3 separate regions of the Homo sapiens genome follow, and all the other regions are linked to region 2. The links come from fine-mapping of genetic effects on gene expression. A gene starts in region 2. Each other region holds a variant in brackets. All regions are shown on one strand. Distances are from middle to middle.

Region 1 (6,146 bases), 22 kb before region 2:
GGTCAGGTGTGGTGACTCACACTCGTAATCCCAGCACTTTGGGAGGCTGAGGCAGAACGATTGCTTGAGCCTATGAGTTCAAGACCAGCCTGGGCAACATGATGAGACATCGTTTCTACAAAAAAAATCACAAAAAAATTAGCCAGACGTGGTGGCACGTGCCTGTAGGCCCAGCTACTCCGGAGGGTGAGATAGAACTGCTTGAACCCAGGAGATTGATGCTGCAGTGAGCTGTAATCATGCCACTGCGTTTCAGCCTGGGCAACGGAGTGAGACCCTGTCTCAAAAAAATAAAAACATAAATAAAAGAATAAAAAAAAGGCCGGGTGTAGTGGCTCACGCCTGTAATCCCAGCACTTTCGGAGGCCAAGGCAGGAGGATAACTTGAGCTCAGGAGTTTGAGACCAGCCTTGGCAACATATTGAGACCCTGTTACTCTAAAAAAAAAAAAAATTTTTTTTTAAAGAAAAGAAGAAACAAAAAAGATAAAAAACCAAAAAGATGGCTGCATGATTGTCTACCTATGCTGGGGCACTCTGCTTAACAGACACTGGGAGGCTCCGGATTTTCCCTTGTGTAAGAGACTCTGAAGATTACATCCCTGCTCATATATGTTTCTGGGCATTTCTGACCATTGAGTTAGCCTAAATCCTGAAAGCAAAATTGCTGGGACAAAGACCACACTTTTTATTTTTTTTATTTTTTTGAGACGGAGTTTTGTTCTTGTTGCCCAGGCTGGAGTGCAGCGGTGCGACCTCGGCTCACCACAACCTCCGCCTCCTGGGTTCAAGCGATTCTCCTGCCTCAGCCTCCCGAGTAGCTGAGATTACAGGCATGCACCACCCAGGCCTGGCTAATTTTGTATTTTTAGTAGAGATGGGGTTTCTTGACGTTGGTCAGGCTGGTCTTGAACTCCCCACCTCAGGTGATCCACCCGCTTTGGCCTCCCAAAGTGCTGGGATTACAGGCGTGAGCCACCGCGCCCGGCCTGGCCATACACATTTTAAGAACAAATCAACTCCAAAAAGGCTGTATCAATTTACACTCACAAGAAGTGTCCAAAAGCTGTCTTTTAAAAAAAAAGTGTTTTATTTCTTAATATGCTTTAATGCTTTTTTCACTTTCCCCAAATTATAAACTGTAGGCTAATGACACCACCTAGAACTAAGGACGTTTACTCAACACAATCTACTGATAGACGTTATAGTCACTCGCTGTAATTTCTTCTCACTTCTTAAGAAACAGCATAAAAATAATGAGAAGAATAGGCTGAGATTCTTTTCAGAAGATTAGAAATGAATCCCAGGCAATGTTCATGAATAATAAAAAGCCTCCCAAGCTTAAGGACTCTGATGCAAAACCGGAATTGGGAATGATATACTCAGTTATCTTTTCGAGCTTCCATACAACACAGAGATCCTACAATCCAAAAACGTTTTAAAGAGAGACATTTTTAATTTTGATAAGAACCATCTTTTTCTCCACATTCTCTCTCAACAAAGTTTATGAATCTCTTTGGTCTGCAGTTGGTAAAGGATAAAAGTGGAGGGGGCAGAATTCTGCTTTGTTATTTACATTTATTTTATTTTATTTTTCTTAGAGACAGGGTCTTGCTGTGTTGCCCAAGCTGGAGTGCAGTGGCATGATCACAGCTCACTGCAGCCTCAATCTCCTGGGCTCAAGCGATCCCTCCCACCTCCGCCTCCCCAAATGCTAGGATCCCTCCCACCTCCGCCTCCCCAAATACAGGCATGCACCACCATGCCTGGCCAGGGTTTTGCCTTGAAGATCAGAATTCATCCTCATGCTGTGGGCACAGGTTACAAATATAGAACCTCAAAAAGAGTTTTATTTATTTATTTATTTATTTTATTATTATTATTTTTTGAGACAGGGTCTCACTCTGTCTCCCGGTCTAGAGGGCCATGGTGGGATCTCGGCTTACTGCAACCTCCGCCTTCTGGGTTCAAGTGACTCTCATGCCTCAGCCTCCCAAGTAGCTGGATTACAGGTGTGCACTACCATGCCCAGCTGATTTTTTGTATATTTAGTAGGGACTGGGTTTCAATGTGTTGGTCAGGCTGGTCTCGAACTCCTGGCCTCAAGTGATTCGCCTGCCTTGACCTCCAACAGTGCTGGGATTACAGGCATGAGCCCTGCCTCCAAAAGAGTTTAACTCCCTCCCTCTCACCGCTGCACTTGATGAGTCTTTAAAAAAAAAGTTTGAATCATTAATAGACACCAGCTCCAGCCTGTGGCGTGGAAATCTTCCCCTGGCTCCCTGAAGACAAAGACAGACATTTAAGGGTGCAAACCCTGACCAGCACGCTGTCACCTCTCAATAATACAAAAATTAGCCAGGCGTGGTAGTGCACACCTGAAATCCCAGTTACTC[G/A]GGAGGCTGAGGCAGGGGAATCACTTGAATCTGGGAGGTGGAGGTTGCAGTGAGCTGAGATCACGCCATTGCACTCCAGCCTGGGCAAGACTCTATCTCAAAAAAAAAAAAGTGTGATTGAACAAAAAGGGAATGATCTAGTGTTGATAGACTGAGTGGAGAAGCCCAGAAATGCCCGTCTGTTGAGATTCTTCTTGGTCTCTCTGTGCAGCATTCCTTCCTCCAGGGTATGGGGCAGGACTCCTCTGAAGTGGAGTTTTATGACCTGCAGTCGGCCAGTCAGAGAATTTCTTTATGAACAGAGGCAGGGGAAGATTAGAATATATTTTTAGGTGCTAAGGCCTGCCTTAGAGAGAAAAAGGAGCAGGTGAAAAGAAGGCCGAAGGAGGTCAGGGAGAAAGATTCTGTTTTCTGGGGCCTGGTTAGAAGCCTAACACACTCCAACCTCATAACAAAAGACAGTAACAAGGGCTATGCGGGTTATGAGCCAGGAACTGTGGATGAAAACTGATGTGTGTTTATACATATACATATATATAAACACACATTTTATATATATACACATAAAATAAAAAGTCAAAAGTCTGGATATTTATGTGAAATCCCTGATCTTTAGCTGTTAGCAGCTAATTAATTTGTTTTTCAAGAAACATAGTGTGGGCCAAAACTTAAGCAACTGTGGGATGTGTAGGTTTTTATTTCTGGCCTAGAGTTGGGAGTAGAAAGGGGGCTAGAAAGGGAGGGTGTAGAGGGCTAGAAAGGGAGAGTAGAAAAGGGGTAGAAAGGGAGGGTGTTCAATTCATGTTTGTTGAATGAATAACACATGGAATGCATTGATTTTCCTTCCACTTGTAAAGAAAGACTACCAGGGTCAGATAAACCAACTGACTTACTGAGAACTCCCACTTGATGAGCACCCGCTGTAATTCCCCTGATAGGATCCAGGCTGGAAACATTTTGTCTGCCAAATAAAAAGAAATAATTAAAGTGTATTGCTAATCAAAAGAGACAAAAAAAGAACCACTAGGAGCTTCTGCTTGCCTGAGATGAGAAGAGCTACCTTCTTAAACTGGCATTATTCCAGGCGAAGGAAAGAAAATGGAATGGTGTGGCTCCTTCTGGGACTTCCAGGGCCCTCATGTTCCCATACAAGATCCAGATCCAGTCTGTGCCCATCTTGGGTAGAGCAATGCCAAGGCTGATCTGATCCCCAGGGTTGGGTTGCAAGTGACTTGGGGGCTCTGTATCTTTTTTTTTTTTTTTTCTGACACAGGGTCTACCTCTGTCACTCAGGCTGGAGTGAAGTGGCACAATCAATCTCTGCTCACTGCAACCTCTGCCTCCCTGGCTCAAGCAGTCCTCCCACCTCAACCTTCCTCGTAACTGGGACTACAGGCATGCGCCACCATGCCCAGCTAATTTTTGCATTTTCTTTTGTAGAGACAGGCTTTTGCCATGTTGTTCAGCCTGGTCTTGAACTGGGCTCAAGTTATCCTCCTGCCTTGGCCTCCCAAAGTGCTGAGATTACAGGGATAAGCCACAGCGCCTGGCTGGGGTTCTGTGTCAGTTTTACCCCTACTGCCCAAATTTGTCAACATGGGATATCACAGGACATCAGCTTATTAGTAGACGTAGGGAAACTATAATCAATACTTATGTTAATTTTTTCTATATGAACTATATTTTGGGTAATCACAAATAGTTGACTAAAAAGTTTTTTTTCAAACATCAGTTTAAGGAATAAGGAAAAAAAGTTGTTTTATTAAAAAATTCCTGGCTGCGTGTGGCGGCTCACACCTGTAATCCCAGCACTTTGGAAGGCTGAAGTGGGTGAATCACTTGAGGCCAGGAGTTCGAGACCAGCATGGCCAATATGGCAAAACCCTGTCTCTACTAAAAATATAAAAATTAGCTGGGCATGGTGGCGCATGCCAGTGATCCCAGCTACTCAGGAGGCTGAGGCTGGAGAATCGCTTGAGGCCGGGAGGCAGAGGTTACAGTGAGCCAAGATTGTGCCATTGCATTCCAGCCTGGGTGACAGAGCAAGACTTTTTCTCAAAAAAAAAAAAAAAAAAAAAAAAAAAAAAAGCAAGGGGGACCTATAGCGATGGCAACTCTTGCTCTAACTGGTTCCTCTCTGCCTCTCTGCAAAGGTTACAAGGTTAACAGAGTCTCCTCTTTTATTAAAAACCCAATAATCCTGGCCAGGCATGATGACTTACACCTGTAATCCCAACACTTTGGGAAGTCAAGACAAGAGGATGGCTTGAACCTGGGAGGTTGAGGATGCAGTGAGCTATGATGGTGCCACTGCTCTTCAGCCTGTGTGACAGAGCGAGGCCCTGTCTCAAAATAAATAAATAAATAAATAAATAAATAAATAATAAATTCCAATGATTAAATTCAGAAGGAATGGTAGAATTTGGAACTCATTGTTTTGCAACTTCTAATGAAACAATGGATCTAGGGCAAAAATCATCAACAGATGCCAAAACCGTAAGGTGGAAGGTTGAAGGGTAAGTTCAGGATTGGATGGATTAGGTTGATAACACCAGGACCCGCGGATTAATCTAGCATCTGTAAGAGTGAGACAGTCAGAAATTATGTGCTTCTTTATGTGATACAATAGGGAATATATGGAACTACCTAAGAAGTATTTTAATTAAAATTTTGAATTCAAGTCTAGATCTCATGACCAGGCATAGGAAATAATGTAGGTAAAGGAACAAAAAAACAATCATTCAAATCCCATACGTGGGACATCCTGTAGGACAAATGACCTCTCCATGCTCCCCCTACTTAAAAAAACAGACTTTACTTTTTAGAGCAGTTTTAGCTTCACTGCAAAATTGAGCAGAAGGTACAGAGATTTCCCATATATCCATGCCACCCCACCTCACATGCACAGCCTCTCCATTATTAATATCTTGCCCCAGAGTGGTACATTTGTTACAATTGATTAACCTACGATGATGCTTCATTATTACCCCAAGTCCATGGTTTACGTTAAGATTCACTCTTGGCATTGAACATTCTATGGGTTTGGACAAATGTGTGATAGGTACCCACCATTATGATATTATACAGAAGGCCGGGCATGGTGGCTCATGCCTGTAATCCCAGCACTTTGGGAGGCCGAGGCAGGTGGATCACCTGAGGTCAGGAGTTCAAGACCAGCCTGACCAACATGGTGAAACCGCATCTCTCCTAAAAATACAAAAATTAGCCATGCATGGTGGTGGATGCCTGTAATCTCAGCTACTCGGGAGGCTGAGGCATGAGAATCGCTTGAACTGGAGAGGCAGAGGTTGCAGTGAGCCAAGACTGCGCCATTGCACTCCAGCCTGGGCAACAAGAGTAAAACTCCATCTCATACACACACATGCACACAAAATAAAGAACAGCTTCACTACTCTGTGCTCTGCCTATTCATCCTTCCCTCCCACCAGCCCCTGGTTACCACTGATTGTTTTACTGTCTCCATAGTTTTGTCTTTTCCAGAATGTCATATAGTTGAAATCATACAGTATATGGCCTTTTAAGATGGGCTTCTTAGCCAACTCATTTTCAACAAAGGCACCAAGAACATACAATGGGGAAAGGACAGTCTCTTCAGTAAATGCTACTGGGGGTGCTGGGCACAGTGGCTCACGCCTATAGTCCCAGCACTTTGGGAGGCCGAGGCGGTGGATCACATGAGGCCAGGAGTTCAAGACCAATCTGGCCGACATGGCAAAACCCCATCTCTACT
Region 2 (6,146 bases):
AAATTTTGCATTAATCAGGGCCACTCCACTTATGAATGAAATTGGGTGTAATTGAGGTATAGAACGTGGGAACATAGGTGTATGTGTGATAAGAGACCAGGACTGGAGGAGGGGCTAGAGCCAAGGGAAGTTGCAAAAGGCCCAAAGTCGAAAATAGCAGGAACCAAATAGAAAGAGCACCCTTTTTCCCAATGCCACTTCCCTCCCATGACTTGAATTTCCTGCAATTTTCTCTTCCTCCCTCCTTCGTCCTAATTCTCTATCTTTGGTTATTCAGGAGGGCCAGCACCCTGTGGCCCCAGAAGATAATGTGGCAACGACTTAGGACACGGAGAGAGAGCGTAGGCAGCAGTGTGTCATTTCCCCTCAACACCCTTGGTAGAATCATCGTGTCTGTCACATTCACAAGTTCTTCTTCTTCTTTTTTTTTTTTTTTTTTAGCGTTAGCAGTTTCCAGCATCTGCATAAAATGATGTATAAAATAGAGTCTCTGCCTGTCCTTAGAGAAGTTACTATCTAGGGGGAGTGAAAGGTCAACTACAGAAAAGTGTAGAGAATGCTAAGAAAGGGCTGAAGGGTGGGGTGTTTGAATAACATACAAGGGGGGAAGTTACCCAGTCTTAGGATATAGGGGCTTTCCAGAAGTAGAGTCTAAGACTTAAAGGGCACAAGTGACAGAAAATCCAAAACAACAGTGACACGAGGTGGTTTATTTCCCTCTCACACAGAGCCCAGAGGCAGCCGTCCAGTGGTGTCATGGTCCTTTACGGAATCAGGGCTCAGGTTCCTTCTATTTTGTTGTGCCACTAGTGTGGCCTCTATTCCTATGGTCGCCTCATGGTTCAAGATGACTACACTTGCTCCAGCCATCATGTCCATGTCCCACCTTCCAACATGGTACTAATCAGTGAAGAGATTGCTGGATATAAACTCAAGCTAATCCATCAATAGTGTTTCCTAATTATTTTCCTTCAGAAATGAAACACATGCAGAGTTAAAAATCACATAGCAGCTGGGCGTGGTGGCTCACGCCTGTAATCTCAGCACTTTGGGAGGCCGAGGTGGGTGGATCACCTGAGGTCAGGAGTTCGAGATCAGCCTGGCAACATGGTGAAACCCTGTCTCTACTAAAAATACAAAGACTAGCCGGGTGTGGTGGTAGGCGCCTGTAATCCCAGCTACTTGGGACGCTCAGGCAGGACAATCACCTGAACCCAGGAGGCGGAGGTTGCAGTGAGCAGAGATCACACCATTGCACTCCAGCCTGGGCAACAAGAGAGAAACTCCGTCTCAAAAAAAAAAAAAAATCACATAGCACAAAAAGGCTTATGACAAAAAATTAAGGTCATCTGCCCTGGCCCTCCCTAACCCTCAGAAACAATTTCAACCTAGCTTTCAAACAGGTGCTGTCAATGGGAGTCACTCTGACATTCTGTACCAAGTGAAATGTTTGCAAAACCAACATGCCCCCGCTCAAAGGAGTCACCAGTGTCTCAGAAGGGTCAGCAGCTGACCTTCTTCATGGACCCCTTCTGTTATAAGAAGGAGTTTTGACAAATTCAGTTTGACAGAGTTTAATTGAGCAAATAATGATTTGTGAATCAGTCAGCCCCCAGAACCAGAATAGGTTCAGAGTGACTCTGAGGCTGCCAGGTGGTTGGATAACATTTAGGGATAGAAAACGGAAAGCAGGTTGGGCGTGGTGGCTCATGCCTGTAATTCCAACACTTTGGGAAGCCGAGGCTGGAGGATTGCTTGAGTCCAGGAGTTCCAGACCAGCCTGGGCAACATAGCGAATCTCCATTTCTATTAAAAAATAATCATTAAAATTTAAAAATAAGAAAAGAAAAAGGAAATAGATGTCCAGAAAACAGAAGCGAGGTACAGAAACAGTTGGACCAGTTATGTAAGCGCAGAACCAGCCCCATCTGGTTCAACTTTGTGTAATAAAGTGGTGAGTTGTTTTTTCAGTTGCCATGATCCCAGGTTGCAAGTTATGTAACCTGAGCGTGCCCAGAAGAACCAAGCATGCAACCACAGGCGCAACCTAAATGCTCAGACCAAAGAACCGGAACAGAATTAAGAAGTAGATACATGGTATAAGCCATGATCTAATCAGATTGAGCCATGGCATCATCCCATGGCAAGATCCAGTCAGATCATTGCTTATTGCAAGATTCAATCAGATCACTGCTCATTACCCTCTGCCTATAACACCTGTCACAGCCCCTGGCTTGGGGAGACAGATTTGAGCATGTCTCCTTCCCAGTTGACTTGCAACAAATCTTTCCCTCTACAAAAACCTGATACTTCGGTGTTTGGCTTTCTGAGGGCAAAGGGATCCAGTTTGGTTCCCTACCAATGACAGATTGACATTTGCCTTATTGGAACAAGGTTTGAACAGGTGGCTGCCTGTGATTGGCTGAAACTCTGTGATTGGTATGAGTAGGATCCAGTTCACTATGTACGGAGAAACCTTTAGGACAAACTTAAGATACGCCAGGAGACAACTTTAGGCTAAACTGGACACTTCTCCCCTTTTGGTCAACCTCTTGATTTTGAGAGGTTGGAAACTTTAGACATTGACATCAGTTACCATTGTAAATAGACTTATTTGGTCTCAAATTCCCCTGGGAAATAGCAGAGCAGTGGGTTTCATAGGTGGGAAAGGGAACAGAATAGAAAAAAAAAAAAAAACACCTGATTAGTTAACATCAGGTCACTTCAGATTCCTTTTTTTAAGGGTTAGAGCAGAGGGGGCTTCCTTATTATGCTGGACTCTCCTGTTTCCAGGGGGGAAGGGAGGAGATGGGGAATACTGGTAATTCTGTAGAATGAATGGGTGGGGGAAAGAGATTAACTAGTAAATGGAAATGAGTGTGTGGTGGCCTTGGGGCTCCTCAGTCTGAGCTCAGCCCATCTGGGGCTCCTCCTAGGTTCTGGGCTTCCATCTGCTTCCCCCTCCTTTTGGGTCCCTCTGAGAAGCCTCCCAAGATCGAGCTGTGTACAGAGCGAGTCCTCGCTGGCCACTCGGAAGGCGGCGGACGTCCGCGCCGGCGCACTAGCCCAGAGCGGCCTGGTCTCCGCCCAGTGGGCGGGGCCTCTTACCGGGGGCGGGGCCGAGGCGTGCGGCGAGCGCTGGAGGGGTCTCGTGGGCGCTCCCGTGGTTGTGGCCCGGGCGGCCGCGAGCGTGTGTGTGTGGCACGATGTCGTGGTAACTCAGAGGCGCGCGAGGCGGGGCGGCCAACGGGGTCGCGGGGCGAGCACGCGCGCCACTGGGGCGCCGGACGTTGCAAGGGGGTCACATCCGGTAGGGGGCGGGCCTGGCGGACCCCGGAAGTGTGGGCGCGGCTGCGGTTTAACCCGCGGTGGCGGCGGCGACGGCGGCCCTGGCAGGTGAGCGGAGACTGGGGAGGGTCCCGGCTCTGCCGCAGGCGGGCGGGGCAGAGGACGACGGTGGGGGCGGCGCCGGCCGTGGCTCCCGGAGCGCCCCCGCCTGCCCGCCTCATCCTGGCAGAGGCCGGTGATTGGGCACGAGGGGCGCGTGACTCTCGCCGGGGGCCGGCGCCCCTGCCCCTCGCGGTGGGAGGGAGGGAGGGAGAGCGCGAGGCGCCGCCCCGGCTCCCCGGCGGGTCGCACCTCCAGTTCCGCCCCACCACTCACCGCCACCCTCCTTTCTGCGTCTCTGCAGGCCCTCGTCCCATATGTGAGCATCTTGCGGTCACAATTCTGATGACATTAGAGCCAATTAGCCCATTGTATAGATGGGGAAGCTGAGGCCTAAGAGTAGGGTCCGACTTGCCAGAGGGCACGCGGGAGACGAGTGGCAGAGGGGAGGTTGGAGGGACTTTGCTCTGTGACTTACTGGCTTGTGCCCTTTCTCCAGGGCATTGAGAGATGGGAGTTTCAGCTTTGGCTTTGTTCAGGACTCAGACTTGGACCTCCCAGCATCACTGAACATTTCTTACCCCGGGACCCTCTGGGCGCAAAGGGCACTGATGTATACATACCCATTATATGCCTGGTTCCTCTTCATTTCCTCCTCAGCCGATGAGGCGATTTCCCACTTTACGGATGGGAGAAGGAGTTAACTGGAGGTGTTTTGTGAGTTACTGGCAGAGTGGACTCTACAACCTGGGGTTTTAGTCGCTGAGCTGAGGCAGTGCTTTCCCAGCTACACCTTGTCTGGGCTCACTTACCCTGGGAATGTCAGTCTTCAGCTCCAGAAACTTCCCACTCATTTCCCTTCGCTCCAGCGGTACCTCAGTTCTCTTGCTGCCTAAGGCCTTTTCCACCCTCTTTATTGGCTCCAGGAGTCCCATTTCCTACTAATGCACCAAGATGCTGCCACCAGACTCTCAGTTCTGTGACTTTTGGCCTTAGAGCTGGAGGTGGTGGTGACCGAGGAACTGGGGAAAGAAAGACTCTTACTTTGTTGTCCAAAGCTGCAACCCTGCAGACACCTGAACTCTGTAGTTCCGGGTGGGATCGGGGACTGTTGCAATGAAAATACTGGACGCTAAACTGAGTCTTTGTTCTTTGCGGTCATAGTGCCCAGAAAAGCCTTTTACCTAGATTATCTTGGAAATGTGGTTCCGTGCCTTTGTAATTTCCATTAAGTAGAACATTTTCATTGTAGACTTTCTGAGCAGTTTCTGGCCGCTGTTTTGCAGGTAGCAATAGCTGTGATTTGTTGCTTGGCTTCATATGCTGGGCACTGTTCTAGGGCTTTCTGAACATACCGAATTTTGCGAACATGTCCAAATAGGTGATGATCCCGTTTTACAGATGAAGTGAGTTGCGGAGATGTTAGATAACCTGGCTAGTGTCACACAGCCAGTAAGTGGCCAAGTTTGGATTTTTTTTTTTTTTTTTTTTTTTTTTTGAGACGGAGTCTTGATCTGTCGCCCAGGCTGGAGTGAAGTGGTGTGATCTCAGCTCACTGCAACCTCCGCCCCCTGGTTCAAGCGATTCTCCTGCCTCAGCCTCCCAAGTAGCTGGGATTATAGGTGCCCACCACCACGCCCGGCTAATTTTTGTATTTTTTATTTATTTATTTATTTATTTTTTTTTGAGACGGAGTCTCGCTCTGTCGCCCAGGCTGGAGTGCAGTGGCGGGATCTCGGCTCACTGCAAGCAATTTTTGTATTTTTTAGTAGAGACGGGGTTTCACCATGTTGGCCAGGCTGGTCTCGAACTCCTGAGCTCAGGTGATCCACCCGCTTTGGCCTCCCAAAGTGCTAGGATTACAGGTGTGAGCCACTGCGTCTGGCCACAAGTGAGATTTGTAACCCATCAGTCTTATTTCGAAGTTAATGTGCTTTTAACTCTGTGATACTGCCTCTCAGACCGTTTAGTTTCCCAAAGGTGCTGGACCTTAAGAATAATTTCTGATGCTTGTTAAAAATACAGAGCTCCACCTCTAGAGATTCTTGGGCTATTGTCTGGAGGAGGGCCCAGAAATCTATTAACAAATGCACTGGGTGATTCTTACGGTAAGGCAAGTTTGGGAAACACTGCCTTTAAGAACTTTGTAGATTTGCTGGGCCACTGGTAGCTTGGAAGTGACATTATTCCTGAGGATTCTTGTTTTCTTTTTGTTTATTGCTTTGAAATTTGTTAATTTGCCCTTAAAAAGCCTTTGGGTTAACTAGCCATATGAATCATTTCTGGACACTCTTGGCCAGTAATAGTAGGGGTTTTCCAGGCTGACAAAATTAGATCACTCAAGACCTGATTTAATGGATTTAGCTCTTTTAATCCAGCTGGATCTCTGTTGTGTGGAAATTCTGTTAGAAGTGTCCTTGAAGGATGTGGCGTTTCCACAAGGTTTTGGTCTGTTCCCAGGTGCTTACCGAATGACAGAGAGGTGTCTAATGGCAGCACTGTCTGAGGTTTTGCTAGCTGTAAAGGCATGTTTACTTAGTAGGTGCTCCTTCCAATTCATATCTCACCTCTTTATCTTCCTTTACTGGTTTATGTGAAAGACTTAAGCAAATATCAAACAGGTTTGTCTTGATTTAGCTGGGGCTGACAAGTAGGACCCCTGGGGCTTAGGATGGGCTGGAGAGGAGAGAGAGTCTCCCCAGTGAACCTCAAACAGATAGCTCAGGCAGGTAGGCCCTACCTTTGAAGACCTGTTAGTA
Region 3 (6,146 bases), 93 kb after region 2:
GTGGGTGTCTCTCCTCCCTCAGAGCCGCCACCACCACCAGCTCTGCAGGAAGTGGTTCTTTTCTCTCTGTTTCTCCCCCCTCAGTCACACACAGAGGCTTGGATGGAGGTGTCAGGCCCTCAGCTTCGGAGGCTTAGAGGCTGCCTTCAGTGGGCAGGTGCTGGGTCTGGCTGGAGAGAGGGCCCTGGTGGGCTTGGCCCATCGGGGAAGTCTCTGGAGCATTTAAATTTGTTTTTCTAAAATGCATGCACCTTTACTGTTTTATTTACTAAAAATATTGATATATGCTAGTCGTAAAATTATTCATAGTGGAACAGGAATGAAAAGAAATTAAAAACTGTGTAATCAAAAACTCAGCTGAATGTAAGAAAACCCAGTTCCCCTTGAGGAAGAGAAAGGGCTGGAGTCCTTTAAAATTAACTGCCTGTTTTTCTTTCTGTGGCCAGTGAGACTTATCTCTCCCTTTCCCAGGCATTGTGAAGACTCTGTTTCTCTAGCTGTGCAGCTTCAAGGTCACTTGACAGATAATCTCAAGTCGTAAAACATGTTGTTCCTTAAAAAGTAAGAAATGATGTAATGCATGTCTCAGTTGAATAACTGTCTTTGTTTCTCACTTCTGTAATATGCTTCCCTCTGCACAGATTACCCCCCCCGCCCCCGCCCAACAAAATGCTTAAAAGGTAACCGGACTCTTTGTTTGGGGCTCAGTCCTTTGGATGTTAATCCGACTGGTTTGGTGCACCTAAATAATTACATAATTCTTCCTCAACCCCTCAGTCTCTCTGATTCCTTAATTATCCCACAGCAATAGAATACAGAAAAGAATGAAAAAGAGAGTGAGCTCCCTCTAGGCTCACTAGCAGCAGTCACCATTACTGCACCTGATATACTTCCTCCTAGACACTTTTTTTTTCTTTGAGATGGAGTCTTGCTCTGTTGCCCAGGCTGGAGTGCAATGGTGCGATCTTGGCTCACCGCAAGCTCCGCCTCTCGGGTTCATGCCATTCTCCTGCCTCAGCCTCCCTAGTAGCTGGGACTACAGGTGCCCGCCACCACACTCAGCTAATTTTTTGTATTTTTTAGTAGAGATGGGGTTTCACCGTGTTAGCCAGGATGGTCTCAATCTCCTGACCCTGTGATCCACCCACCTCGGCCTCCCAAAGTGCTGGGATTACAGGTGTGAGCCACCACGCCTGGCCCTAGACACTTTTCTTTGCAAACACGTACATTTAAAAAAAACACACACACACGAATGGGCCCATACAACACAGAATTTTAGGCTCAATGTCATTGCCGGCTTTCCGAGTTAGGAAATGTAGGTGCACATTCATTGTTTTCAAGGGAGTCATGGCGTATAAATCCCATTCCCCTATCTGGGGACACTGAGAAGGTTTCCATTGTCCTCCTCTCACCAGCACTGCTCTGCCAAGCACCCCGTATAGCTAACCCTCACTGTTCTGTGTACACTCTTTCCCTGATGGCTTTGCAATAAACCTCTAGGTGTAGGGCTATGGGGTCATGGGGACATGCACTTAAAAAGCTCAGGGTATTATTGCCTCCTGTGTTTTCAGCAGAATCTGCTTTAGGTTGGTTGAGGGGAACCCAAACAGAATCCCCTTCTGTCCTCCCAGGCCCCCTTGAACCCTTTAATCCCTTCTGCACCCCCTCCCCAGTCCCAGTCTTCTTGTTGCTGGTGGACTCATTTTCCCCTGTTGCAAGAGCCTCACTGGTTTTGTCTGTCCTCCATCCAGCACCGTCGTTGTCATCACGATTGGCTTGCAGTGCTGGCCTGGAGGAAGCAGGTGGTAGGGACAGGGTGAATCTGAGCAATGACCAAGCTTGCTGTCAGGATGGGTGTTCTCCTCCCTTCTAAGCTGTGTGTCTTTGGGCTGTTGCCTGGCTCTCCCAGCCTACGCAACAAGGATGCTGAAACCTTACAGGGCTTCAAAGCTATTTGTACATTGTCAAAGGCAGGGCAGATGTGAGGGAGACAGATGATGAAGGAGGCAAGAGGCATCTTGAGGCTTGGAACTGATGGATCTCTTGTTCCCACCACTAAGGGGACACAGGGACCTGCTGGAGACACACTGGGTACCTGGAGTTCTGCCCTGAGGGGGGCACTGAGGGGCCAGAAGAAAGGGGGAGAGCTTTGCTGTCAAGCCTGTGGTTCCAGAGGGAGGTCACTGATCCTGATTCATTCACTTATTCAATAACTTACTAGGTGCCTGCTATGCACGAGGCACTGTCCTTGGTGTTGGGAGACATGGCAAGAACAAAACAGACCCCAAACTTTCCTGCCCTCATGCTCCTTACAGTCTAACCTGGGGCAACTGACAATGAACAAAATAAATAAGTAAAAATATATTGTGTGTCCAGTGGCAATAAATGCTACGGAAGAGACTAAAACAGGAGAAGAGAAGGGGGAAGGGGGAGGGAGGGGTGGCGATTTAAATAGGGCTGTCCAGGAAGGCTCCACCCAAGGCGAGGAAGGGAGTTGAGGGCTCTCCAGGGGAAGAGCCTTCCAGCCCAGGACCAGCAAAGGCCCTGAGGCTGTCCAGTGTGTCCGATGGCCAGCGTGACCCAAGTGGTGTGAGCAGGTAGAGCAGTAGGCTGTGAGGTGGGAGACGTCATGGGTGCCTTTTACATGGGATCACTCCACATCCAGCAGGGAGAACACCCGGAAGGGAATGAGGGCAGGAAGCAGGAAGGCAGGTGAGGAGGCAGAGAGGACGGTGGCCAGGATCAGGGCGGTCGCAGTGGAG[G/T]GGGTGGGAGGTGGCCAGAGTCTGACTACATCTCGAAGGCAGAACCCATAGGATTTCTGGCTGGATTGCAGCTGGGATGTGAGAGAAAGAGGAGTCACAGGTGACACCACAGTTTTTGGCCAGAGCACCTGGAAGGATGGAGAAGCCCTGTCTTGAGATAGGGATGGTCAGGAGTTTGCTTTTGGCCATATGACACTTGAGATGCTCTCGGACACCCAAGTGGAGATGCTGAGCAGACAGGGCTGGGTATGAGTCTGGGGCCCAAGGTGGGTGGGGAGAAAGAGAGAGAGAGAGAGATCCAAGCTGGGAACATATTGGTGTTACCACGGTGGATTGGGAGGGATGGGGGTCGTTGGCAGCAGCGCACGTGAAGTCACTGCCACTGCCTGGCCTTTCTCTGCCCCTCAGTCGTGCCTCAGAGAAGAGAGGCAGACATATCTGCCCCGGAGCCCACCCAACTTGGCCCGCCTGCCATTCCCCTCCCCACCTCCCCTCCTGCCTTCCTTTCGTAGTCACCTGTTGTCTAAGTGTGGGCTGGGGGAGGGCGTTGCTGTTTTGGGTTCTCTCTGCCCCCCACTGAACAGAGGAGAGTGCACGGGAGGCCATCAACGCCAGCCCCATCAATCTCGAAAACTAGGTCACGCTGGAGCCTGGGGCCTCCACACTGGGCTCCAGCCACATCTGTCATTGACCTGAGACTCATGCATCCCTGCTCCTGGCAGGCACCATCTGTCACCCACAGCTCCTCTGTCTGTGCTCAGGATGCAGAATGGCCGACTCCTTTGCTGGTTCCAAGCACAGGCCATGGAAAGGGGCCTTGTGTTCATTGCATTTTTCACAGAGAGACTTATTCCCCAGGCTGACTGTCCACTGTGACCACCAGGAAGTTCAGTGGGTTTGCAAGGGCCCCAGTCTCCTATTTCAAGCTATCCTCCTGCCTGGGCCTCCCAAAGTGTTGGGATTATAGGCATGAGCCACTGTGCCCAGCCATAATCAGTGCTTCATACCATCAGATCTGGTATGTGGATTGAAACCTGTTTGTTAACTCGGATCTACACAGAGCCAAGCAGTACAAGAACTTGGAAACTTGGTTGAGTTTTTTAATCTTTTATCCAGGTTTTATCCAGGTTTTAACCTAGATGCTCACTGGGTAGAATTTAAGAGCTCAGGGAAGATTCAGAACCCAGGCAAAACTGTTTCTGGCTGAAGCTTTTCGTCATTTGATCAAGCATATGTAAGGTTAGCTCTGAAAAAGAAGTGTAAACACTGTTAATGATTTTTAAAAATGTAAAACTTTTTTTATATATATTGCATGCACACACACGCCCACACACCCACACACACATACACCGTGTAACCTCCACCCAGCTCAAGATCTAGAACATTTTCATCCCCCATTAAGGTTCCCTAGAGCCTCTCCTATCAGCCGCCCCCTCCCACCAAGAGCTAAGCACTGTTCTGGTCTCTCACTATGGGTCTGTTCTCCAGCTTTCCGTAAGTAGTGTTTTGAATTGCAGCGTATGGACTCTTCTGTGCCTGGCCTCTTCAGCTCCTCATTATACCCATGAAATTCATCCGTGTTTGAGTGTAGCAGGAGTTCCTGCTTTTTAGTTGCTGTGTTGTGCTTTATTGTATGAATACCACATTTTTTTAGTGCTAATGATTTTACTTAAGCAACCTGAAGACGTAGATACTGTGTCTTTTTCAGGATTGTAGCCACAGAGCCTGGCACGGACTTTGTCGAATGAATGAATGAATGAATGAATGAATGAATTGCATTATTGCTCTTACTTTCAGTGGGCTTTAGCCGGGGCTGGGTTCTATCCTCACAGTGTGGCATTGTCACCATATTCATAGACTGCCTCTCGGTCATGCTGGGCTTCTCTATCGAGGGCCTAGTAGTTGCTCATGAAAAGCTCTGGGGAGGACCTCTGGTCCGCAGTCCCTGCCCCACCCCTGCTCTGGCCAGGGCCTGTCCTCTCTATCAGCCCCGTGGCAGAGCACCACCTTGTTATAATCCTGGTTCTGGGGTTGCTTGAGCAATTAACTGATGTGAGCCCTTTCCTTACCTTGGGGAAAGGGATGGAGACATTCCTGTATCGTGTAACCTGAAGTCATCAATGCTTGCTGCAGGGGGGAGGTGCCCAAATCAGAGAGAGGGACTGGACCCAGAGCCCCGCTGTGTGACAGTGGCCACACCACTGCCCTCTCTGGGCCTTGCTTCCCTCAGCACAGAGAGCCTGGCTTTGTCTCACTTCGAGTTCTTTCAGGGCTTTGGTTCACCTTTGCCACAGTTGGCTTGGGAGCCTGTAGGATGGGACAGGTGGGTGATGTTCCAGAATGTTCTGCCTCTGTTAGCTGTTGGGATGGGCCAATGGATCCCGAAGCTGCGGTCCCAGAGTTGCCTCTCCTGGCAGAAACCTGTTGCTCAGCCACGCATGTTGCCGATTGGGCCACATCCCCCAGCTCTGCCCCGGCCCTCGTCTTTGATGGTGAAATGTGAAATCAGGAAGCGGCGAGCTCTTGAGTGAAGTTGTATCGAAATGAATCCATCAAGGCAAATGGGATCTTGATTTTTCTTCTGTTCCGTGGTTGCTGTTTCCTGAGTTGGAAACGCGAAAGGTGACAGGGTGCTTTCAATAGAAAACGGAGTGAGATGGATGATGGAGTGAACGTGGAGTGGGCATGCGAACATGAGGCCCTTGGTGGGGAAACGGGTGCCTCCGACAGGCACTGCACCTTCCAGCTGCGTGCACTGAGGCTGGTCTACGCAGGCCAGACATCTGGGGGGGCCCAAGTGAAGAGAGGCAGAATGTCTAGGTCAAGTTTGTCCAACCCGCATCCCAGGACGGCTTTGAGTGTGGCCCAACACAAATTTGTAAACTTTCTTAAAACATTACGAGATTTTTGTGTGTGTGAATTTTTAGCTTATCAGCCATCGTTAGTGTCAGTATATTTCTTTTTTCTTTTCTTTTTGTTTTGTTTTGTTTTGAGATGGAATCTCACTCTTGTCGCCAGACTGGAGTGCAGTGGCGTGATCTCAGCTCACTGCAACCTCTGCCTCCTGGGTTCAAGGGATTCTCCGGCCTCAGCCTCCCGAGTAGCTGGGATTACAGACGCCAGCCATCATGCCCAGCTACTTTTTGTATTTTCAGTTGAGACGGCCAGGCTGCATGTTGGCTAGGCTGGTGTTGAACTCCTGACCTCAGGTGATCCGCCCGCTTTGGCCTCCCAAAGTGCTGGGATTACAAGCATGAGCCACCGCGCCCTGCCGTGTCAGTGTATTTCATGCGTGGCCCAAGATAATTCTCCCAGTGTGGCCCACGGAAGCCAAAAGCTTGGACAACCCTGGCCTAGGTGTTTTGTCTACACAGTAACAAATAT

Evidence for each region.
Region 1: its variant is fine-mapped to the expression of VPS37C in whole blood (TOPMed, PIP 0.96).
Region 3: its variant is fine-mapped to the expression of VPS37C in whole blood (INTERVAL, PIP 0.93).

What each region holds. Positions count from the first base shown.
Region 1 is chr11:61,180,313-61,186,458 of GRCh38, reverse strand. LOC124902678 (a long non-coding RNA gene) reads right to left here. Exons shown (of 4, transcript XR_007062691.1): 2 at 3,289-3,356. Among named protein-coding and RNA genes, the nearest start is that of PGA3, 20 kb to the left of the region's middle. The variant G/A (reference allele first, on the strand shown) is at 2,396.
Region 2 is chr11:61,158,641-61,164,786 of GRCh38, reverse strand. VPS37C (VPS37C subunit of ESCRT-I) reads left to right here and starts at 3,361. Exons shown (of 5, transcript NM_017966.5): 1 at 3,361-3,396. RefSeq lists enhancers at 2,772-2,911, 2,922-2,971, 2,712-3,304, 3,305-3,898 and a silencer at 2,962-3,721.
Region 3 is chr11:61,065,293-61,071,438 of GRCh38, reverse strand. LINC02954 (long intergenic non-protein coding RNA 2954) reads right to left here. Exons shown (of 4, transcript NR_186234.1): 4 at 3,842-4,008. The region is part of intron 1 of LOC105369325 (a long non-coding RNA gene); the gene reads left to right. Among named protein-coding and RNA genes, the nearest start is that of LINC02954, 13 kb to the right of the region's middle. The variant G/T (reference allele first, on the strand shown) is at 2,763.